Linked DNA regions of Homo sapiens: region 1 is linked to region 2. Evidence: fine-mapped expression QTL. Tissue or cell type: sun-exposed skin. Region 2 holds a variant in brackets; the other region holds the start of a gene. All regions are shown on one strand. Distances are from middle to middle.

Region 1 (5,144 bases), 180 kb before region 2:
ACAGAGTTCTCCTCCAACCAAAAAACATTCTGTCTTCATCTCGACAGCCATCTTCTTGCCAAAATAAGCCGGGAAAGGTTATGTGAGTGCCTGGAGTCCAGCAGGAGTTGAGCTGGTCTGAGAAGAAAAACAGAGAAGAAGGAAATATCCTAAAACATTGATTTGTTTAAACTTCTTCACAAACTTTACAACACAAGGAAATCAACAGAGACAAGCTCATAATGAAGTAATCAGCCAACGCGGCTAATATTCCAGCAATGAGAAATGATTCCCTACATGTCATGGGGCAGATATGAATAGGGTCATTAAAATATGGCCAAGGAGGGGAGGGAGAGTTTACTTTTTCTGTCTCCTTAGAGTCTGTGTTCTGAAAGCTCAGCAGGAATTTAAACAAATAGCACGGAGGAATGGTGAATCTGATCATCTTTAAAGAAAAAGCCCCTTTCAAACTTCTCTTTAAATCATTGGCTTATGCAAGTTTCGCTTTTTAAAAATGCTGCCGACCTTTTCCCCCCAAACAAAATTAGCATCAAATTGTTCTAATATTTTTCTGCATATTTTTTTCTCTAGGTCAAGAAGAAATTGTTGCTCCATCATATAAGTGAATGTCAGGAGGAGGAAGGAGGATCTTAAGGAATGAAGTTCTAATGCATCCTCTTTGATTAAAAAGTAAAAGAATAAAGTTAGCAGAGGATAAAAGGTATATGGAGAGAGCCACCCACAAAAAGGGTTGCACCGGTGAAATGGGCCTGTGTAGGTCACATCCCCTCAGGGAGGGTAGCATTGGGTCCCTTGCATTTCAAATAAAATGCAATTTTAGGAACAGGGGCTGAAGGGAGAGACACTTCCACCCACCTCAACAGGGCAATTTTTTAAAAATTTAATTTAATTAATTTATTTTTTTGAGACAGAGTCTCGCTCCATCACCCAGGCTGGAGTGCAGTGGCGCCATCATGGCTCACTGCAACCTCCATCTCCCAAGGGGTTTGAGAGATTCTCCAGCCTCAGTCTCCCAAGTAGCCGGGATTACAGGCGCGCGCTACTATCCCTGGCTAATTTTTTGTATTTTTAGTAGAGACGGGGTTTCACCATGTTGGCCAGGCTGGTCTTGAACTCCTGACCTCAGGTGATCCCCGTGCCTCGGCCTCCCAAAGTGCTAGGATTACAAGCGTGAGCCACCGCGCCCGGCCCAACAGGGCAAATTTAACTGAACTTACAGTACAACCACCCGAAGCTCTGGGAGGATGGCAGAGTGCTCTGACCTTAGACTAGTTACTTAACTTTTTAAAGCATCAGACTTCCCACCTGTAAAAACACGAGAAGAGAACCTTCCTTACAGAGCTGTGAAAGTCCAATAATACAAAGAAAATATAACATCACCTGGCACTTGGTAGAGTGTTCTACAAACGTTAGGAAGAATAAAACCAGAAATTCCCCCCAAGACCCTCTTCGGGTGAGGCCCAGGGGCCCTGGAGAGGGTGGCAGGCCCGGGGGTGTGGGGAGGACACTTTAGCCAGCTGCCCCCAATTCTCCTCCAAGCCTGGCGGCCCAGTTCCGGGCTGTGGTGTGGCTTGAGGGCCCAGGGCTCCTCACTGAGCTTGCTTAAGCAAGTTCTTTCACACACAGCCCCATATACACTTTGGCTAGAAAATTCAATGAGGAGTTTTTTCTTCCTTCTTTCTCTGTTGTTGTTGGGTTCTGATTACTTCCATCTGGCTTCAGCGGCTCGAGTGGAGTCTCTAAAACACACAACACAACAAAACAAAAACCCACCCTGCAAGCCACATGCACCAAACCTAGAAGGCTGCTTCGTTTCTCGCCAGCGTGTGCTCAGATGGCGACGAGGGCTAGCGGCGGCGGGGGACGCCTCAGGACCCCCGGCACCTGCGCTCGCTGCCCGCGGGAAGAGGGTCCGCGTGGACCCAGCCCCCGCGTCCCTTCTCTGGCGTCCCCGGCTTCCGCGCGGGCGTCCAGAGAAGCGGGCGCCCTGGGAACAGCGACCCAGGCATCTCCCCGAGGAGGGAAGTGGGAGGTGGGGAGGGCGGGGGGATTTCAGAGATTGAAAACAGAGCAGCCCTTGCCCCTCAGCTCCGGAGCTCATCTGACTTGAGTTAGCGACACCCCCAACCCCCCCCCCCACACCTAGTCGTCTAAAAAAAGTGTCGGAGATTGGCGCGTCCTTTGGTTCCTTTCTCGAACTTTCCTTGTAGGTGCGTTTTCTTTCCTTGGTGCTGGGTGGGGAGAGTCCCTGTGCTCCCCCTTTCCCCTCCCCCCGCCCCGGCGGCGTTCGGGTCCCCCTGCGTCCCCCGGCAGGGAGCGGGCGGGCTGGCTGGCGGGTTCTTGGGGCCCGGGTGTGCCCGCACCGTGCGCGCGGGGGCGCTGCGCAGTCCGGCGGCGCTGATGGATTGCAGAAGTGCCGGCGCTTGCCAGCCGAGGCAGCACGGCTCCGCGGACTTTTTTTCAAACTCCCATCAATGAGACTTCGAGGAGGAGCGGGCGGCGGCGGCGGCTGCGACTGCGAACGCGGAGGAAGGCCAGGAGCCGCAGGAGGAGCCGGAGGAAAGAGCTTGGGCCGCGCGGCGCGCCGCAGCCTCGGGGAGCCGCCTGCTCGCCGGCGGTAGGGGCTGCGCGGCGCCCGCCCGCCTCTCGGTCCCCTCTCTTGCCTGGCCCGCCCCGCCCCGGCTGGCTGGAGCCCCGGCACAAGGCAGCCAGCCGAGGGTCGCCGCGCCAGCCAAGGTGGGATGGGGGCCCACAGCCACCGCCCGGCGCCCGAGAGGCCACCTGCGTGCTAGAGGCAAACTTTTGTCTCTCTCGGTAAAGTTGCATTGGCCTTCTTTTGCTTGCTTTTCGTGACGAAGCGCCTCCCACCTCGGCCAAGCGCGGGCCGACTGGGATGCTGCGCCGTCTCGGGGGGTCCCTCGGCCGGGTACCGGCGCCTAGGCCTTGGGATCGGGGCCCTGGGCTTCGGGGGACTAGAGGCTAGTAGGCGCGACCCCGCCTGGGGCTCTGGACGAGCAGGGCGGGGACGTAAGGAGAGTCCTGGGGCTTGGAGCTCGTGGCCAGAGGTCGATGTTGCACCCTCTCCCTACCTGGGGGAGAGCACCACTCTTCTCGGGGTGCACAGCGAGCCGGCCTCCGCGCGCCGGCGGGGGTCTGTTTTTTCAGGGGGTGGAGGGTGGGATCGGAGGCTGGGATGCTCCGAAGCTGCCGTAGGTGGGCATGGGAGCGTGTCTGCGGGCGTACTGAGCGCGGAGGGGCTGCAGCCAGCCACTTGAGAACTTCGAACTCCACTTCTCCGCGCTGCGCGTCCCGGAGCCCTGCCTTTCTTTCTTCCTTCCTCAATCCTTCCTCCCCCTCGCCCGGCCCGGCCGCCCCCTCCCCCTCTGCTGGGCTCTCCTCCTCGGCCCCCCCTCTTTGCCTCTCTTCTCCTCCTCTCCTGCCCTCGGCCCTGAGATCCGCTTGACTTCCCAAAGGGATCCGCACGTAATCCTTTGCCGGGTCCTCCGGTTCCCCCTTCCACCTCACTTTCATCCCTGCCCCCCTACTCATCGTCTCTCCCCACCCCCGACAATCTCTCAACAAGTATATTTGCTGAGGAATTTGAAAAATCCACTACTGCAACTTGATCTGTATGTGATGGATGGGGAGAGGCGCGGAGAGAGTTGGGCGCCAATCCTATTAAGGGTTTAGAGAGGGGAGTCTTTTCCCCGGACGGGGCGGGGGCGGGGAGCTGGGAGGGAGCGTGTGCTTGCGTGTGTGAGTGTGAGCGCGCCCGCCGCGCTGGAGAGCTGGGAGTCCACCCAGCTCGGCGCCTTTTCAGCCCGGCGGTAACTGCTGTCATTTCCTAGGAAACCCGACTTTTACCGCGCGGGGAGCTGGGGATGGAGCCCGTGCGCCTCACCCTGGGTGATCGGTCGCTGAGGCTCTCGGGGACCTCGAGCCCCCCCGAGGGTGCCTCTTTCCACTACCTTCTCTTTTGTGTAATTGTTCTGTGGCTCCTAGAGTTGATCCCAGCTGGAAAAGTAGACCTGTCCCTACTGTCTGGTCCCGCGCCCTGGGAGTCTTGTAGGCGTCCCTCTGTCCCCCAGCCCGGGCATCCCGCTCGGTGCGCGACCTCTGGCACGGGCTTTGCAGCTCGGTGGCCGCAGCGGTGTCCCGGGCCCCCTCTCCGCCGCTCTTGCCGGGCGTGTGAAGGTTTAATCCCGACAGCTTCAGATAAAGGGAGCAGTTGTAAAACGCTCATAGGCTGTTTGCAGACGAGGCTCTGGGGGATGTAGGAGAATTTGAAAGTAAACGTTTCCCTCGCAAGCAGCATAAAATAGTGTTTAAACAAATATTGTATTGGCATGCTCAGGGGGCTCGGTGCCAAAAAGTAAAGTAAATAAACTGTGAAATCCAAAATATACAGCGGGGAAAGCGGAGGAATAGGCGGGTTTGTCACAGGCCTCCCTGATGAGACCAGTTTGTTCCAGCCACCTCACCTGCCAGCTTTCTCTCCGCCCATTTCCTTACCTTGCTGGGAGTTCCCTTGGCTGGGTTTCCCTGTGTCTGGGGACAGGCCCTCCCTGGGGCCTGGGAACGGCTTTGCAGTTGCTTGTTTAGGGGGAAGCTCACGGTGTGGCTACCTGGGCCTGACTCCACAGGGACGGGGGGCACCTTGGCTATGCCTGGCTGCTTTGAGTTTGGAGGCTCTTTATTTAGGCTTTTCCCAGCTTCTGGTCTGTCCTGGGGCAGTCATTCTAGAATGTGGAATCCAGATCCATCAGGGGCCTTCTCTTCTTTTTGACTATGCTTCTTGTGCCTCTTTCTTCATCGTTCTTGCTTTTGTTTTCCTAGACTTGCTGCTTCTCTCTTGAGGGTTACAGGAAATTGTGGAGATGTTTTTCCCTGGGATTCGAATTCCACTCAAGCCCAGCCATATGGAAAGTTGTCGCTTGTCTGATGAGTTTTAAAGTTAATTATATTTGGTAAGATTTAGGGTGGTTTTATTTTCTCCTCTGCTTCGAGAAATATGCCAGTTTCACGAAATTGTTTCGTGATTTTAGGGGATTTAAGCTAATACAGGGAAGATCCTGCATTTGAAAGAGCCCAGCTGCCCAGGAGGTATCCCTCAGGTGAACCAGCCTTCAGTTGGGCTAGCATCT
Region 2 (5,144 bases):
GCCATAGCTGGGGCTGTGGGTCCCATTTCCCTCTGGGTCCCCTCCGTTTTCCTGTGCTGTGGTTTCCTCCTTTTAGCTGTCATGTCCCAACCTTGATCCCCCTGGGGCATCTGGTCCACCCCTGCCCATGAGGCCTATGTCCATCCCACAACTTATAATGCTAACAAGCCGTTTGGGGCCTCCCGGTGGTCAGCAGGCCTGAGCCAGGGGTGACAGCAGGGCCCTCAGCCACCTGGTCCCTTGGCACGGTCTGTCAGGGCTTCTTGCCTAATCAAGGGATGCATTTTAATTTATGCAAATGGGGGAGGGATGGTGGCAGGGAGTCACAGACATCCATCACCCCATTTCCTAGCAGCAGTCATTCATCAGTGGGGCCTTAAAGATAATACACTTTTTGTTTCAGGCAATTACTTAATCTTGACAAACTCCTGTGTTAAGCAGGGCTATTAGCGGGGTCCATCATTAATCAGCGCAGAACCAAGTGGGTGCTTTTTCTGAACTGCAATCACTCTTGGGGACCCGGGGTGGGCCCTTTGCCATCCTCGCCGCCCTAATTACACAAGCAGCATGCTAACAACCAGCATCCCACACGTGTTGCAGGGGCGCCAAGCCACGGGCAGAAGAGGGGCCCATTTTTAACGCCAGTCAGAATGTTTTCGGAGCCAGGCAGAATGATACATGGGGGTTATTAGCAGCCACCAGGAACACAGCTGGGGAAACAGATAACTCCCCTCCCCTGGGTCCCTCCCGGACTTGCCTCTGACTTCGCTGGGTACCTGGGCAGCACTTAGATGCCGCTGCATGGCAGACCCATTCTGTTTTAAGGGGTTACATTTCCTTTTGGAAAGACCACGAATGAAGTGAAAATACCAAGGCTGGCCTTGTGTTTCCTGGAGTTTGTTGGTGCTCCACCTCCTTACCAGGGCCTGGGTCACAGAGTACTGCTCCCTCCTCCATCACACACCTGTGACCCTTATTACACCAATGCCTGGCCCAGGCTGCCCTGAGGGGGAGTGGGCACCCAGGAGAACAGGGGATGAGTCGGGCAAAGACTGGGACCTGGGCCTTCCCCCGGCCTCATTTCTTCTTCCTGGTCCAAGAAGAGCTCATACCGCCCTACCCTACCCCACCCATGTCTGGAATTTCAGAGAAATGGGCATGAGGTCTGGCTGTGACACAGATTAGCCATTTGACTGAACCAGGGCAAGTTACTGAACGCTCCTGTGCCTCAGTTTCCTCATCTCTAAAGTGGAGATAATAGTAACAATACCTTCATCAATTGCTATGAGGATGAAATGAGTTAACAAATGCAACATGCTCAGGAAGGCTCCAGTGTGAAGGAAGCCCTGTGCACTGGCTGTTAGAACCACTGCGGTTTCCAGTCTCCAAGGAAGGGCCAGTGCGTGGCTGACTCCTAGAAACTGCTCTGTCTCCTACTGCGGCCCCGAGCAGCATGGCTTTCTCTCCTCGGTCCTAAATTAATTTAGACTGACAGTCGGTAGCTACTGGCCACCCTTGTTATCCTCGGGTTCTGTTTTCCAATAGTGGGAGGATTCACTCATTCATGTATTCATTCATTCACTCACTGGGCACATACTCCTCACCTCCTCCATGCCACTCGCTGGGCTGGTCGTTGACTCAGAGGAAATGGTGTGGAGGGAGTATCGTCTGCCTGCGGTGGAGGGGGGTGGCAGAAGAAAGGTCCAGGAAGCTTCCTGGAGGCAGGCTCGTGTGGACTGGGGTTGCTGAGGGCAGGCTGAGTTGGCATGATGAGGATGAGGGGGTGTGGTGGGGAGGGGCTTTCTAGGCAGGGTGGAGCCTAGGAGGCATGGGGTCTGCAAGGCTGTCATTTGACCCTGGGGCTGGGAGAGTCTGTGGGGCAGGATCTGGAGGTCCTGAGTGCCAGGCTGGGGCTCTTGACTCCATTCTGCTGGCAATGGCAGGACCTGGGGACCACCTGTCAGTCACTCAGACCCTCCTCCTGGTCCCCCTACTGAGGTGTGACTGGACCCACAAAGCAGGGCCTTTGCCCACAAACGCCTCGGATGAGAGTGCACAGGCCAGGCTGCTCTTGGGTTTGTGGAAGGGCAGCTCTGGTTTCTCCGGCCCCGAAACACATTGTATTTGGGAGTTTTCCCCTAGATCTTAAACCCTGTTTATTTAAAAAGAAGTAGACTCTGTCTGCTTTTAATTCACATGCTTAGCTCATCAAAATATTGTTTTGCAAGAGGTTTTTTTTTTTTTTTTTGATGTCAGGAAGGCTTTGGCATGTTTTCCTCCTCCCTTTCTTCTACAGTCTTATTCTAGGAAATAAGATTCTGGGCACCGCTCAGGGCTGGAGGGTTGGGTCATGAGACCACATATTCTGTGTCTCAGTTTCTGAACCAACAAAATAGGGGAGCAGGCTCTTCCCACGGATTCATGGACTGGCCTCCAGTCCTGCTGGTGGACACCGTATCCCAGCAAAGAGAAATACTGTTTCCATGCGCCACAGTGGTCGTTGGTGGGGAGAGTGGGGAGGGTGGTGGGAATGGCATGTGCTCCAACCATCATTCAGTTAACTGGGTCCAGAATCACACGGGCAGGGAGCCAGGCGTCCGAAAGTGTAACACGGCTTGCCCGGTGTTTCTCCACGGTCCTGCCGCACTGCCCCTCATGACCCCGGCATGGGCTTTGCTTTCTGCGGACCCTCTTATTTGTCGAAGATCTCGGGAGTCCACACACCCACTCCCGTGTCTGGGAACACTCCAAGCTTATCAAGAACGCAGCGGGCAGCAA[T/C]CCAGGGCAGAACAAGGGAGGTGCTGTCGACCAGCTCTGCGCGGAGAGGTCAAGGGTGTGGAAGGGTGGGGAGAGAGGCACAGGCTGACTTAATCCCTTGGGCGGGGCACCGGCCTCACCCACAGAATCGCAAGTAACCCTCCTACGATTCTGGGAACGTTTGTGAGTTAAATGAATGGAAGGGAGGGAGGAAAGGAGGGAAGAAAAATAACTGTGTTTTCATCAGTAAATGTAAGCGACCAAATAGAAGTCTGTAGGAAGCTAAGATTCAAAGGTGAGGAAGGACTGAGGTTTGGGGAGAATTCTCATCACCATATTTTGTGTATTGATGGGACTTTTACTAAGCTAGACTAGAATTCTGAAGCAGTGGAAAGTCAATAATGATAACGAGTTAGGCCTGAGCTGTTCAGTAGGGTAGCCGCGAGCTGTGTGTGGCTGAGTGCTTGCAATGTGGCTATCCTAATTGAGATGTGCTGTGAGTGCAAGATAGGTACCAGGTTTTGAAGACGTAGTAGGAATAAAAGCATGTAACACATCTCATTAACAATTTTTTTACTGGTTCCATGTTGAAGTGATAGTATTTTTGACGTACTGGTTCAATTAAATTGTGTTATTAAAATAATCACCTGTTTCTTTTTAGTTTTTTTTAAATGTGGCTCCTAGAAAATTTACAATAACATATGTGGCCCACATTGTATTTCTGTTGGCCAGGGCTGCATTGGATGAGTGGACACCTAGGGAAGATTCTAGTCCAAGGTAGAGAGAATTGTAAAGGATCCCTTTGAGTAACATAATTATTGGGACTGACAAGAGGCTCCCAGAAAGTGGCCCTTACGGGACCTGCTTGGATGAAAGAATGGAGAGCATTTTGTCATTCCCCTGTTGATTGCAGAAAGACAGTAAGTCCAGCCCCAGTGCTCGTTTGCTTGTCCAGGTGGCTGATTCCGCTGCCCGGTTTTAAAGGTCATTGATTGTCTGTGGCAGGCCCTGCCTCAGAATGCAGCCTGGAATAAAGAGGTGCCTTGGCTCAGCCTGGGAAACCATCACCAGGGCCTGGTGGAGACCAAATGTGGTGGCCTTACTGTCGTCTCAAGAGCTATGGCAGAGTGCAAAGCTGGGACTTGATGCTCTCGGCAGGACGCAAGGCAGGACCTATAAGCCAGATCAAGAAACCTCTTGTTGGGCTCTGCAGGGAAGGGGCTGGATGCTAGTTAAGTACACAGAATGGCAAGTGACACCTTCACGACCCGTGGGGACCAGACAGAGGAATGGCATGGTCATCCTCCTGAAAGGGAGAATCACCTGCGACAAGTGGGCTTCTTGCCGGGGACCAGTCAGCATTGCAATAGCTAGCCGACAAGGTCCCTGCCAGCTGACGGGGTCGCCAGTGTATACTGTCAAATGAGTATGTCAAGGGGCAGCAAGATTTTAGGGGAAAGCCTGAATCCATCCCAGGCCACCTGGCCTAGCCCTGGCCTGTGACAGGTGGAAGGAGCACTAGGGCCTGGGCACCGTCTCCTCCAGCTCCTGGGCTGGATTCCTGCTTTCTGCATTGGATTCTGCAAGGTGCCAGGGTCCCTGGGAGCCATGGTCCTCTGGGCTTCAAATCTATTGCATTTTGCAGTGGGGAGGCTGCACACTACTTTTTTAGAAACCTTCTGTGACCAAGACAGAGTTTTCAACCTTAAGCAAGCTTGACCAGCCCTATTGTTTCTTCCAGCCCTAAAATTCTCTAATGTGGGACTCTACATGTCTACCCAGACAGACAGGCAGCCCCTCCCATTCCTTGTGATGGCGGGGATCTCCCAGGTGTCCCTCTGGAGCTCACCCCAGTCTCCCACCCCTTGCTAAAGGGGCAGGAGCCCAGCAGAGGGGTCTGTAGGGATGGCCACACCGGCACCCTTCGGGGCCCTACTGCGTGCCTGGCCCTGCACTAGCTCTTCTCCACTTCACAGTCTCCCTCTGACATGGGTCCTGTCCCTATCCTCATTTTACAGATAAGGACACCGAGGCACAGGAAGGTTCGGTGAGTCAGCAATCAAGCCAGACTTGGCTGTGGCACTGGCGGCAGCCTCAGCTCTGTCCAACAGGACACTATGCCGCCTCTTGTGGCCTGTCTCCTGTCACTTCAAGGCCACTGTTGCAGGGAACAGATCCCATGACTGCCTGGCTCCCGAGCGGCCAGACCCAAATGGCACGGGGCTGGCCTCTCCCGTGGCGTTGGCTGGAGCACACTCCTCACCCTGGAATGTGCAGGTCCCTCTGCATCCCTACCTGCCCTCACCAGGAGACCAGTCTCAGAACTCTGTGCCTGGTGTGGAGTGGCTGTGCTGGCCCCAGCCCAGCACACTCTCTCTTTCGGCAGC

Which allele goes with the higher level. Positions count from the first base shown, and alleles are read on the strand shown. Sizes are in standard deviations (SD) of each study's normalised expression.
For the expression in sun-exposed skin of the gene that starts at base 2,397 in region 1, allele T in region 2 goes with a higher level than allele C (small effect, 0.26 SD a copy in GTEx).

What was found. PIP is the estimated chance that this variant, and not a neighbour inherited with it, causes the effect.
Region 1: GLI2 starts here. The variant in region 2 is fine-mapped to the expression of GLI2 in sun-exposed skin (GTEx, PIP above 0.99). The same link has a PIP of 0.9 or more in esophagus mucosa and unexposed skin.

Annotation. Positions count from the first base shown.
Region 1 is chr2:120,733,472-120,738,615 of GRCh38, forward strand. GLI2 (GLI family zinc finger 2) reads left to right here and starts at 2,397. Exons shown (of 14, transcript NM_001374353.1): 1 at 2,397-2,814. It overlaps LOC124906073 (a long non-coding RNA gene), which reads left to right. Exons shown (of 3, transcript XR_007087219.1): 3 at 571-1,379. LOC124907881 (a long non-coding RNA gene) reads right to left here and starts at 4,190. Exons shown (of 2, transcript XR_007087221.1): 1 at 3,090-4,190; 2 at 1-117. RefSeq lists enhancers at 1,026-1,673, 2,313-2,482, 3,601-4,101, 4,102-4,602, 5,009-5,144.
Region 2 is chr2:120,910,044-120,915,187 of GRCh38, forward strand. All of the region lies in intron 2 of GLI2 (GLI family zinc finger 2), which reads left to right. Among named protein-coding and RNA genes, the nearest start is that of GLI2, 180 kb to the left of the region's middle. RefSeq lists enhancers at 1,265-2,208, 4,500-5,144. The variant T/C (reference allele first, on the strand shown) is at 2,779.